3 linked regions of the Homo sapiens genome follow. The protein of the gene in region 2 interacts with the protein of the main gene of each other region in a pairwise test. Each region holds a gene or a part of one and is shown on either strand. Other genes may lie near its edges.

What was found.
Region 1: the proteins of PRC1 (region 2) and LARP4 interact in a two-hybrid assay, tested with the Homo sapiens proteins (one large-scale study listed by BioGRID).
Region 3: the proteins of PRC1 (region 2) and KIF3B interact in a two-hybrid assay, tested with the Homo sapiens proteins (one large-scale study listed by BioGRID).

Annotation. Positions count from the first base shown.
Region 1 is NC_000012.12:50,473,738-50,477,200, forward strand, and holds part of LARP4 (la-related protein 4), read left to right. Parts: intron 1-261; coding exon 262-430; intron 431-1,788; coding exon 1,789-2,127; 3' UTR 2,128-3,463. UniProt on the Homo sapiens protein: RNA binding protein that binds to the poly-A tract of mRNA molecules. Associates with the 40S ribosomal subunit and with polysomes. Plays a role in the regulation of mRNA translation.
Region 2 is NC_000015.10:90,980,891-90,984,543, forward strand, and holds part of PRC1 (protein regulator of cytokinesis 1), read right to left. Parts: intron 3,251-3,653; coding exon 3,128-3,250; intron 2,889-3,127; exon of another isoform or gene 2,802-2,888; intron 1,201-2,801; exon of another isoform or gene 1,092-1,200; coding exon 858-1,091; intron 780-857; coding exon 609-779; intron 144-608; coding exon 1-143. UniProt on the Homo sapiens protein: Key regulator of cytokinesis that cross-links antiparrallel microtubules at an average distance of 35 nM. Essential for controlling the spatiotemporal formation of the midzone and successful cytokinesis.
Region 3 is NC_000020.11:32,280,503-32,284,155, reverse strand, and holds part of KIF3B (kinesin-like protein KIF3B), read right to left. Parts: exon of another isoform or gene 2,283-3,653; intron 1-2,282. UniProt on the Homo sapiens protein: Microtubule-based molecular motor that transport intracellular cargos, such as vesicles, organelles and protein complexes. Uses ATP hydrolysis to generate force to bind and move along the microtubule. Plays a role in cilia formation.

The sequences.
Region 1 (3,463 bases), on a different chromosome or scaffold from region 2:
TGCCTGTAATCCCAGCTAATCAGGAGGCTAAGGCAGGAAAATTGCTTGAACCGGGGGGTGGGGGTGGGTGGGGGGGTGGGGGGGGTGGGGGGTGCGGGGCGGGCAGAGGTTGCAGTGAGCCAAGAGCATGCCACTACACTCCAGCCTGGGTGACAGAGTGAGACTCCGTCTCAAAAAAAAAAATTACGTTTTCTTCTGATTAGTTGCTCAACTGTTCCTATATGCTATTCTGAGTCTAATTGCAAGCTCTTTTTTCCTTAGCACAACTCAGCAAGAAAAGGATCTAATAGAAGATTCCTCTGTTCAGAAGGATGGTCTCAATCAGACAACTATACCAGTTTCTCCTCCAAGTACTACAAAGCCATCGAGGGCAAGTACTGCTTCACCATGTAATAATAACATAAATGCAGCTACAGCTGTGGCTCTACAGGTAACTTGAAGATTTTAGTTTATGTTAAAAAAAATACAATAGATTAGATTTTTTTTTTTTTTTCACGTAACACTTTGTTAGAACAGAGTCATTTGGAAGTAGCCCAAGTTGGGGCTGACTATCAGAAAGAAGCTTAAGGAGTGTTAGGGTCACTGCAAAGAGATGGAAAGTTTTAGGCTTTTTTTTGTTTTGTTTTGGAGACTGAGTCTTCACTCTGTCGCCCAGGCTGGAGTGCAGTGGCACGATCTCGCGTCACTGCAAGCTCCGCCTCCCGGGTTCACGCCATTCTCCTGCCTCAGCCTCCCGGGTAGCTGGGACTACAGGTGCCCACCACTATGCCTGGCTAATTTTTTGTATTTTTAGTAGAGACGGGGTTTCACTGTGTTAGCCAGGATGGTCTCAATCTCCTGACCTCGTGATCCACCCGCCTCGGCCTCCCAAAGTGCTGGGATTACATGCGTGAGCCACCGCGCCTGGCCCATTCTGTTTCTTTTGATTGCTTTTTTTCTGTTCATATGGTTAAGTGAAGCTTCTTCCTTACCCACGTTAGGATGAATTTATCATTTTGGGGCTAACATAAAGAGGCCTTGTGCCTCTTGATATTCTTTTGGTTGTATATGTGATACTTAACAAGTCTATAAGTGGCCATTGAGAGGCCACTCCCATTTATCAAGTTCCAGAATTGTTTTATAGTTATATAATTGGGAAAATACAGAAAAGCAGAACAAAACACAAAATTTACCTATAATCCCTAGCATTTTAGTACAGCACTTTTAAAAATAGATTTAGAAGACTATCTTCTCATTCAATGATAGTAATAATACTAAAATAATAGCTACCATTTGAATGCTTACTATATATTATTAGGACTAGTGCTGAAGACTTTACATGTTTTATTCTGTTCTCACAATACCTCTATTCCACCTTTTTCAGTTGAGGTAATTAAGACTTTTAATGAGTCTTTTTATACCATTGGATTCTAACTGCTCTGCTGGGATTCTTTTGTCATCTTTCTTGGGGTTCTTTGTAGCAAGGAAACAGGAGCAGAAAGAACCATTTTATTTCATCATATGGCTATACCATTATTCATCTAATCTGTCCTTTGTTAGGCATTTAGGTCGCTCCCATCATTATAAACAACGCTGACATGAACATCCTTCAGTTAAATTCCTTACGTGAAATTATTGTATAATAAATAAAGATTGTACCAGTGTACTCTAAGCAGTATATATGAGAGTGCTTGTTGCCCTTTTCTGGAAGATAATCTGTGGTTTTCTTATGGTTAACACAATCATTTTTATACTTTATAATTTAAAGAATGTGTACCATAAATGTTTTTTTTTATCATCACTTCAAAGGAACCCCGAAAGTTAAGTTATGCTGAAGTGTGCCAGAAGCCCCCTAAAGAGCCATCTTCAGTTCTTGTGCAGCCACTACGGGAACTTCGCTCCAATGTGGTGTCTCCCACCAAAAATGAAGACAATGGAGCTCCTGAGAACTCCGTTGAGAAACCACATGAGAAGCCAGAAGCAAGGGCTAGTAAGGATTATTCTGGCTTCCGAGGCAATATAATCCCCAGGGGAGCAGCAGGAAAAATCAGGGAACAGAGACGCCAGTTTAGCCATAGGGCTATACCTCAGGGAGTGACTCGACGTAATGGCAAAGAGCAATATGTGCCACCCAGATCACCAAAGTAAAAAACAACAAAACTATTCAAAAACTTCACTCTCTTCCCATTAAACTTGAACTGTGGCTATATTGAACTGTTTTGGAGGGGAGGGGGTAGCCAGGAAGGAAACAAGAGAAAGTACGTCCATTTCATTATGGATTTTGGAGTTGTGAGTGATAGGATCCCAAAATTCATCTCTAATGTGGTTTTTAAATGCTGGAGGATTCCAATCAATATAAATATATATATATATATACACACACATATATAAAAAGTATAATTTTTCTATTTTTGTTTTTGGTTTTAATTTGCAGAGATTTGCTGCCAGGAATCAATTTTGAGGGTTCAGATTTAGCTTGGAAGAAAAAAAAGAAACATACATCCTTCAGTATAGGAGATGAGGGAATGAGAGAAAATATTTTTTGAAGAAGCATTTCTGTAAAATTAGAAATTACTTTTTTTAATCTATTTAAAGTTTGGCTTGAAGAATGCCATCTCTGACTATATGGCCTTGTATTGCAAAGCGGATCAGTGGCTGGGGTGCCTGTTGTGGGTGTGAGTGTGTACAAGAGCGATTGAAGCCAAATCTGTTGTCATGTTAGTAAATGATTTGAAAACTGAATGTAATACTTGAGTAGATTTTTTTTTCTAGTTTGAAATTTAGTCTGTCTTTTTGACCTTACTAATATTTCATTTAACAAGTTGTAAAACTCTGATTGTACTTAGAGATGTGACTACCAATCAGTTTGATACTCAAGGAAAGGGGGTTATTCAAGAAATTGAAAATTTCATCTTGGACCTCAGTGCATAGGTCAAATGGATTTCAGAGGTTTAAACTTCCCTGTGATTCCCCCGAATACCCCCAAAATGAGAAACAAAATTTTTTTTCTTACTCCATTTGTTACTCTCTGTTCTTTGACTGCCCACCCACAGAAAAGCAAAATAACCAACTACCTACTCAATTGTGTGTTTGTAATTGCTTTGAGCAGTCTAGTCAAATCATATAAATTGTTCTAAATTTCAGAATTGAACATTGAAGTATTAACTCTTCTGTTCACACATTTAGAATTTTAGCTCCCAAGATGGTAGGGCAGACTGACCGTACAGTAATTTATTTGTCGTTAGTGTTAAAGATTAAGCATAGTAACTGACTCTTAAGTGTTAAATAATGTAGAAGTAAAAAAATTTTTTTTAAAGGCTTAATTTGGGAGGGGGGACTTATTTCTGTTTACAGTGTATTACCTTCCTTCCCTCCTCTTCTCCCCCCACACCCAACAAAATACAGTTTGGAATTCACTGAAACAGTACCAGCAAGTCATGAGATTTTTTAGTAAAGATGAGAAAGATGGTTGAAGAAAATTAGT
Region 2 (3,653 bases):
CGGACCTTGGCCTTTGACCCAGACATAATGGTGGCCACAGCTTCTCTTTCTTCTTCAGGTATTTGCAACCTGTCCCAGAGCTCTCGGATTTGAGTACGCAGCCCCTCACACACTGCTTCATTTTGTGATTTCTGCATTTCCAGCTACAGCATAGAAAGCCAGTGTCACTCACGGCAAAGCAGCAGCACAGAGGCTAGCCCTCTAGCCTCCCGCAAAGAAATGTCTGGAGTAGAGGAGGAGGCACTTTCATGAGAGTTCAAAGTAGCATGTTTTCATGCCTCCTAAACACGAGCTGTAAGGCTGTCGGGATCTCAGACCCCAAGAATTAGCATTCAAATTTAGAACTGAAAAAAATTTTAATTAAACACTAGTCTAATTCAAATGACTAATATTATTTCATCTATAATTTCATTTTCTTGGAGCCATATAAAGGTTTTTTAACTGTTAAACAAAAATCAAGGTTGTATATCATATATTACTATCCTTAGCTTCCCTCATTCTCTTACCTTACATTGTCTCCTTATTTAAGACTGAAGAAACAGCTGTCAGTTTTGTTCAAACTGCTATATACTACGGAGATCCTAGGGCATAATTTGAGAAGACAGTACCTGCCGTAGCAACTTTTGTAGTGTTGCAATATTCTCCAAAGACAAACAAAAGGCATCTTCGTCTTCACACACCACATCTCTTTCAAAGCTTGTGTCTGGGGTGTGGTCTAATGCTTCCATACACAGTATGATCTGTCTCTTTATACTGACAAACTCCTCACGCCTAGAAGCCTTTAAAACAAAGCAATTACAAGATACCTAGAGGAAAACCAAAGTGACTTTTAGGAAGAACAAATGTAGGCAGTGTACCTTTGTTTCCCTCAAAGTTGTCACATGTTGCCTGAACTGGTTCAGCTCTTCTAAGCTGGGCACTGAGGCACTGTCAATATCATAGTGGGGCATACAAAGAATTTCGCACAGTTCTTGATCTTGCTCTTGAAGTAGCTTCAGTTCCTGTTTTCTCTCCTTTTTCTGTTTTCGCATCAATTCCACTTGGGTGCGCAAATCTTTTTCTAGTTGCAAGATGGTCGTCTCTCCTTCTTCCTGAATAAGACAACGTACCACTGTTATAAGATTCCAAGTGAATTCCTTCAGAGGAAGAGAAGGACAACATAAGAAGGCGTGGATGACAGACTTTCAGTTAAACTAACAAGTAAGTCAACTCATGGTCAACAGAATATGGCACAAAGAGGGTCTCCTAAGGAAGGTCCCAGTGAGGAAAAGTGAGTAAGTACCAGGGTACTTTTCCCCCCAATTTTAAAACTTGTGGTAGAACACATATAACATAAAATTTACCATCTTAACCATTACGTGTACAGTTCATTGGTATTAAGTACAGTCATATTGTTGTGCAATCATAACCATCACCTCCAAAACTCATTTCCTCTTGCAAAAGTGAAACTTCATACTCAAACAAATAAGTCCCCATTTTTTCCCTTCTCCAAGCCTGGCAACCACCATTCTACCTTTTGTCTCTATGATTAGACTACTCCAGGCACCAGGCACTTTTATAGAATGTGTAAATTGGCAGCCAGGCACGGTGGCTCACGCCTATAATCCCAGCACTTCGGGAGGCCAAGGTGGGCAGATCACGAGGTCAGCAGTTTGAGACCAACCTGGCCAACATGGTGAAACCCCGTCTTTACTAAAAATAGAAAAATTAGCCAGGCATGGTGGCGGACACCTGTAATCCCAGCTACTCGGGAGGCTACGGCAGGAAAATCGCTTGAACCCGGGAGGCGGAGGTTGCAGTGAGCCGAGACCACACCATTGCACTCCTGCCTGGACAACACAGCGAGACTCTGTCTCTAAATAAATAAAGAAATAACAGTGTAAATTGGCTGGAAAGCTTGCTTTGGGTTAGCTATAGGGTGGCATGCCTAGCTCATATCTAAATACTCATCCTGCTAATCCTATGAACATCGTCTCACCTTAGCAACAAAAACCCATCTGGTAGTCCCTGCTCTACTCCTAACTGGTTAACAAGAAAAAAAAAAGTGGCATTTTTTTATAGGACATATACATTTTTCTTAAATGTCCTATACATTTACACAATTTCATTTAACATTGTGAACTAGGAACATCAGGTAACTTAAGGGAGATGATCGTTGTACACCTCACTTCTCGCCCAATTTCACATGGAATGTGAAAAAAGAAAGAGAAACTATGTCCAAAATCAATTATATTTATGACATTTATGTTGACTCCAGGAAGCTCCACTTCATGTTCTCTTCTGCCTGATTGCTCTTGGCTACCAAGTATGAATTATCCTTTGCCCTTTAAAGGTGATCTCCCTCCTAAGCTAACTCCAAATAGATATCCAGGCAGGTCTTCCTGTAACAGGAAGAGGGACCTGAGAACCTTATGGGTGTACTCATTGTCTTTCCAAGCTCCACATCTGTCCTAATTTTTATGATCCTGGCACTATTTTTACTGGTTCTAAGCAGAGATTTTCAGGACCCCATCTGTTATTCATTTCATCCTTGCTGTGTCCTCACTCAAGTCCCTGACTTGCAGTGGACCACAATATAGCCACTTCTCAGCTCCATACCCAGATGGATGTCATGGCATGCTCTGAAATGGACTATGCACTCCCAGTATTCCAGCTTTTGAGACATTTCTTCTGAAGAAGCCATTTTGGCTGGTTCAGTGGTATGCAGCTTCTGGGTATGATAAAACCCACAAAGGTTGGTGTTTTCATAGTATTCCTTTTAATCATTAGTTACTTTTGTTCCTGTTTTCATTTTCTTTCAGAGAAAGAACACTGCAGCACCATCTATGCCTACCTTTTTCTCAGCGTTTATAAAAAAAAATTCATATTCCCTACAAAGCAAAACTATGGTAAGCAGCAGCTTCTTTTTGATCATCTATTAGTTGCTTCACCTCTTACCAGGGCAACTCTCTACAGAGGTGAGAATTACTCTGCTGGGCCTAATTAACTACACAGCATGTTTTCCCCACTTCTTACGTCTAGCTCCATCCCTACGAGGAAGCCTTCCATCTGCAGGCCCAAGTCAACGTTGCTTTCTAAGTCTCAGGCCCCAGACAGATCACCAGAGACCCTGTGGGCTGCCACGGACCTGAAATGGCTCAACATGTAACTCGCTGCACAGAGTGTTCAGCTCTTTCTGACAGACGGATATGCTTTTGATGAGTCTTTCCTTCAGGCTTTCCTCTTCAGCAATCATCATATCCAGGAGTTCCTACAAGAGGGAAAACAGTCCATAAGTTTGGGGCAATGGAGGAAAAAAACTCCCAACACCAATACCAAACTCCTCAAATTTCTTTTTTCTTTTTCTTTTTTTCTTTGAGATGGAGTCTCGCTCTGTTGCCCAGGCTGGAGTGCAATGGCGTGCTTTCGGCTCACTGCAACCTCTACCTTCCGGGTTCAATAGATTCTCCTGTCTCAGCCTCTTGAGTAGCTGGGATTACAGGTGCTCACCACCATGCCCGGCTAATTTTTTTATTTTTAGTAGAGACGGAGGTTCACCATGTTGATCAGGCTGGTCTTGAACTCCTGACCTCAAGCAATCCATGCGCCTCGGCCTCCCAAAGTGCTGGGATTACAGGCATGAGCCACCGCACCCAGCCTCCTCAAATTTCAAG
Region 3 (3,653 bases), on a different chromosome or scaffold from region 2:
ACTAGCCTGTAACATAGCAAGACCCCATCTCTACAAAAAATAAAAATTAAAAACAAAAATTTTTTTTTTTTAATTAGCTGGGTGTAGTGGCATGCACCTGTAGTCTCAGCTACTTGGATGGCTGACGTGGGAGGATCGCTTGAGCCCAGGAGTTGGAGGTTACAATGAGCTATGACTGCACCACTGCACTCCAGCCTGGGCAACAGAGTGAGACCAAGTTTTCTAAAAAAATTAGCGGCTCATGCCTGTAATCCCAGCACTTTGAGAGGCCAAGGTGAGTGGATCACTTGTGGCCAAGACGCCTGGACAATACAGTAAGACCCGTCTCTACAAATTTCTTTTTTTTGAGATGGAGTCTCACTCTGTCACCCAGGCTGGAGTGAAGTGGTACAATCTCAGCTCACTGCAACCTCCGCTTCCTAGGTTCAAGCGATTCTCCCGCCTCAGCCTCCGAAGTAGCTGGGACTACAAGCATGCACCACCACACCCGACTAATTTTTGTATTTTCAGTAGAGATGGGGTTTCCCCATGTTGGCCAGGCTGGTCTTAAACTCCTGATCTCAGGTGATCCACGTGCCTCAGCCTCCCAAAGTGCTGAGATTACAGGTGTGAGTCACCATGCCTAGCCATCTACAGAATTTTTTTTTTTTTTGAGACGGAGTCTCACTCTGTCGCCCAGGCTGGAGTGCAGTGGTGCGATCTCAGCTCACTGCAACCACCACCTCCCGGGTTCAAGCGATTCTCCTGCCTCAGCCTCCTGAGTAGCTGGGATTACAGGTGCGCACCACCACGCCCAGCTAATTTTTGTATTCTTAGTAAAGAAGGGGTTTCACCATGTTGGTCAGGCTGGTCTCAAACTCCTGACCTCGTGATCTGCACACCTCAGCCTCCCAAAGTGCTGGGATTACAGGCATAAGCCACCACACCCGTCCCCAAAACATTTTTTTTTAAATTAGCCAGGCACGACAGTACATGCCTGCGGTCCCAGCCACTCAAGAGACTGAGGTAGAAGGATCACTTGAGCCCAGGAGTTCAAGGCTGTGGGGGAGCCATGATCACACCACTGCATTCCAACCTGGGTGACAGAGGGAGTCCCTGTCTCCAAAATGAATAAATTTATTAAATTTAATTAAATAAACAAGTGGCAGTGATAAGACTATTAGTTTTACTATTCACAATGTTGAATGTACAACCCTGTAATGCCCAGATTTACAAGTACAGTTACTGGAATACATAACAATGAAGCTCGAATTCCCTTGCTCAGAAGAGATTCAAGAATCCTCTAGGAATTCTGGTAGAGTACAATAGGTTTTCCAGGGATTCTGAAGTCAAAAGCTCTGAAACTTCAGAACTGTCATTTGGTGACCAGGAAAGAACCACTTTGGCAGGGAGAATGTGGCCATTTGGCACACCAAGTGAACTTCACTAGTGATTCCGCTCCCTCTTCCAGAGCTGGCCAGGCTCCCTCAGCCAAGATCCCGAGTCAGCACTGCAATGCCAACAGCACAAGACAGAAAGACAGATGGGTACTGCCCTGGCAAAGCCCACACCTGCCGCTCCACAGGCTGGCAAAAAGCCAGACTGTAGAAAAGCAGGACTTTTTTTTTTGGTTCACAGTAAGAACGTCAAGCTTCAATCAGTTGCACCTGGCTAGCTTCTGCCAGCATAATCTGGGATTTCCTCCCCACAGACTATAAAGTATGATGCTTATACCTTGTGCCTCTCCTCTACAGGGTTCAAAATAAACTATGAATAATTCTTCCTCATAGGGCCCCTTACCAAAAAGTCCTTTCATCATTTCAGAGGCAGATGGCATCTCTAACATCTACTTAATTGCTCAGGCCAAAAACCCAGGAGTCATCCTTATTCTCTCACCCTCATCCCGCCATCCTGCTGGTTCTACCTCCGAAACACATCCCCAATCCGTCCTCTTACCATCTCCACTGCCACCAACCTAGAAAGCCACTATCTTCTCTCACCTAACCTCTTAACTAGCCTCCTGGCTGCCACTCCTATGCCCTCTAAAATTCACTGCCACAAAGAGGCCAGAGTGATTTTTTTAAAAAACAAAAATAGATCATGCCACGTCCCTTCTCCAGAACCTCCAATGATTTCCACAGCTTTTAGAACAAAATCCCAACTCATTACTCTAGCAGACAAGGTCCTGTATGATCTGAGCGCTCCCTACCACTTCCATCCCCTACATCCACCCACCTCCCCACTCTGCCTTTGACTCACCTGTCCCTGCCATTGTAAGCCTTCTTGCAGTTTCTGGAACTTACCAAGCTTGTTGCCACCTCACAGCCTTTACCCTTGCTCTTCCTTCTGACATGTCTTCAAATGGCTGGCCCGTCCCTGGGAGCAAATCTCAGCAAAAACGTCACCATCCTAGCAAGGCCTTTTCTTTTTCTTTTTGTTTGTTGGGTTTTTTTTCTTTTTGAGATGGAGTCTCGCTCTGTTGCCCAGGCTGGAGTGCAATGGCGCAACCTCGGCTTACTGCAGCCTCTGCTTCCCAGGTTCAAGCAATTCTTGTGCCTCAGCCTCCTGAATAGCTGGGACTACAGGCACGTGCCACCACACCCAGCTAAGTTTTGTATTTTTAATAGAGATGGGATTTCACCCCAGCACTTATTCCTCATCCAAATTCCCTTGTTCATTTACTGCTGTATTTTTCTGTTTGCTGCCAGTAGAATATAAGCTGCATGAGAGCAAGGGACTCTGTACCTTTCTACCATGATATCTCCAGGCTAAAACAGAACTGACACATTCTAGGTGCTCAGGAAATACTGAATAAATACAATCCGGGCAGGATAGTGGTAAGTACACTGAATTTGAAGACAGAAGACTGGATTTCAACGTGAAATGGGCCACTCAATAGCATCATGGCTTCTTGGCTTCCATTCAGATTCCTCGACTATAAAACAGAGATCCTAATCTGCACCTTACCTTCCTTGAAGGGACACAGATAAGATTAAATGAGTAAAAGCATGTGTAAGCAAGTGTAGGCATTTTTGTAAGCCATTAGGCACCTTATTGTTATTGTCAAGTATTGCTACTCTCTGTTACATAAGACGGGGTCTTTCTCAGGGACTTGCGAATTAATGGATGAAAAGGCTTAGGAAGCAATCTGAGGTTTCTAATCCAGGCACCTAACAGAAGTCTAGGGACACAACAAAACAGATTAGAATCAGTGGCTTCACTCTGCAGCCAAGGCAAACATAAGATATGAATTCATTTAAAGATGTCAAATGCAGTAATTTGCAAATTAAGCTCTGAGTTCCTCGAAGGATATGGAGATGGGATTGACCTCCACATCCTCCATGTGCCTAGCATAAGGGGATTTAGCAAATATTTACTGAATTGGATGTTGAGCTACTAAACCTAACGTCCTACCATCAGCTTTCATCTTTCTTTCTTTTTTTTTTTTTTTTTTTTTTTTTTGAGACGGAGTCTTGCTCTGTCGCCCAGGCTGGAGTGCAGTGGCGCAATCTTGGCTCACTGCAAGTTCCACCTCCCCGGTTCACGCCATTCTCCTGCCTCAGCCTCCCGAGTAGCTGGGACTACAGGCGCCCGCCACCATGCCCAGCTAATTTTTTTTTTCTTTTAGTAGAGATGGGGTTTCACTGTGCTAGCCAGGATGGTCTCGATCTCCT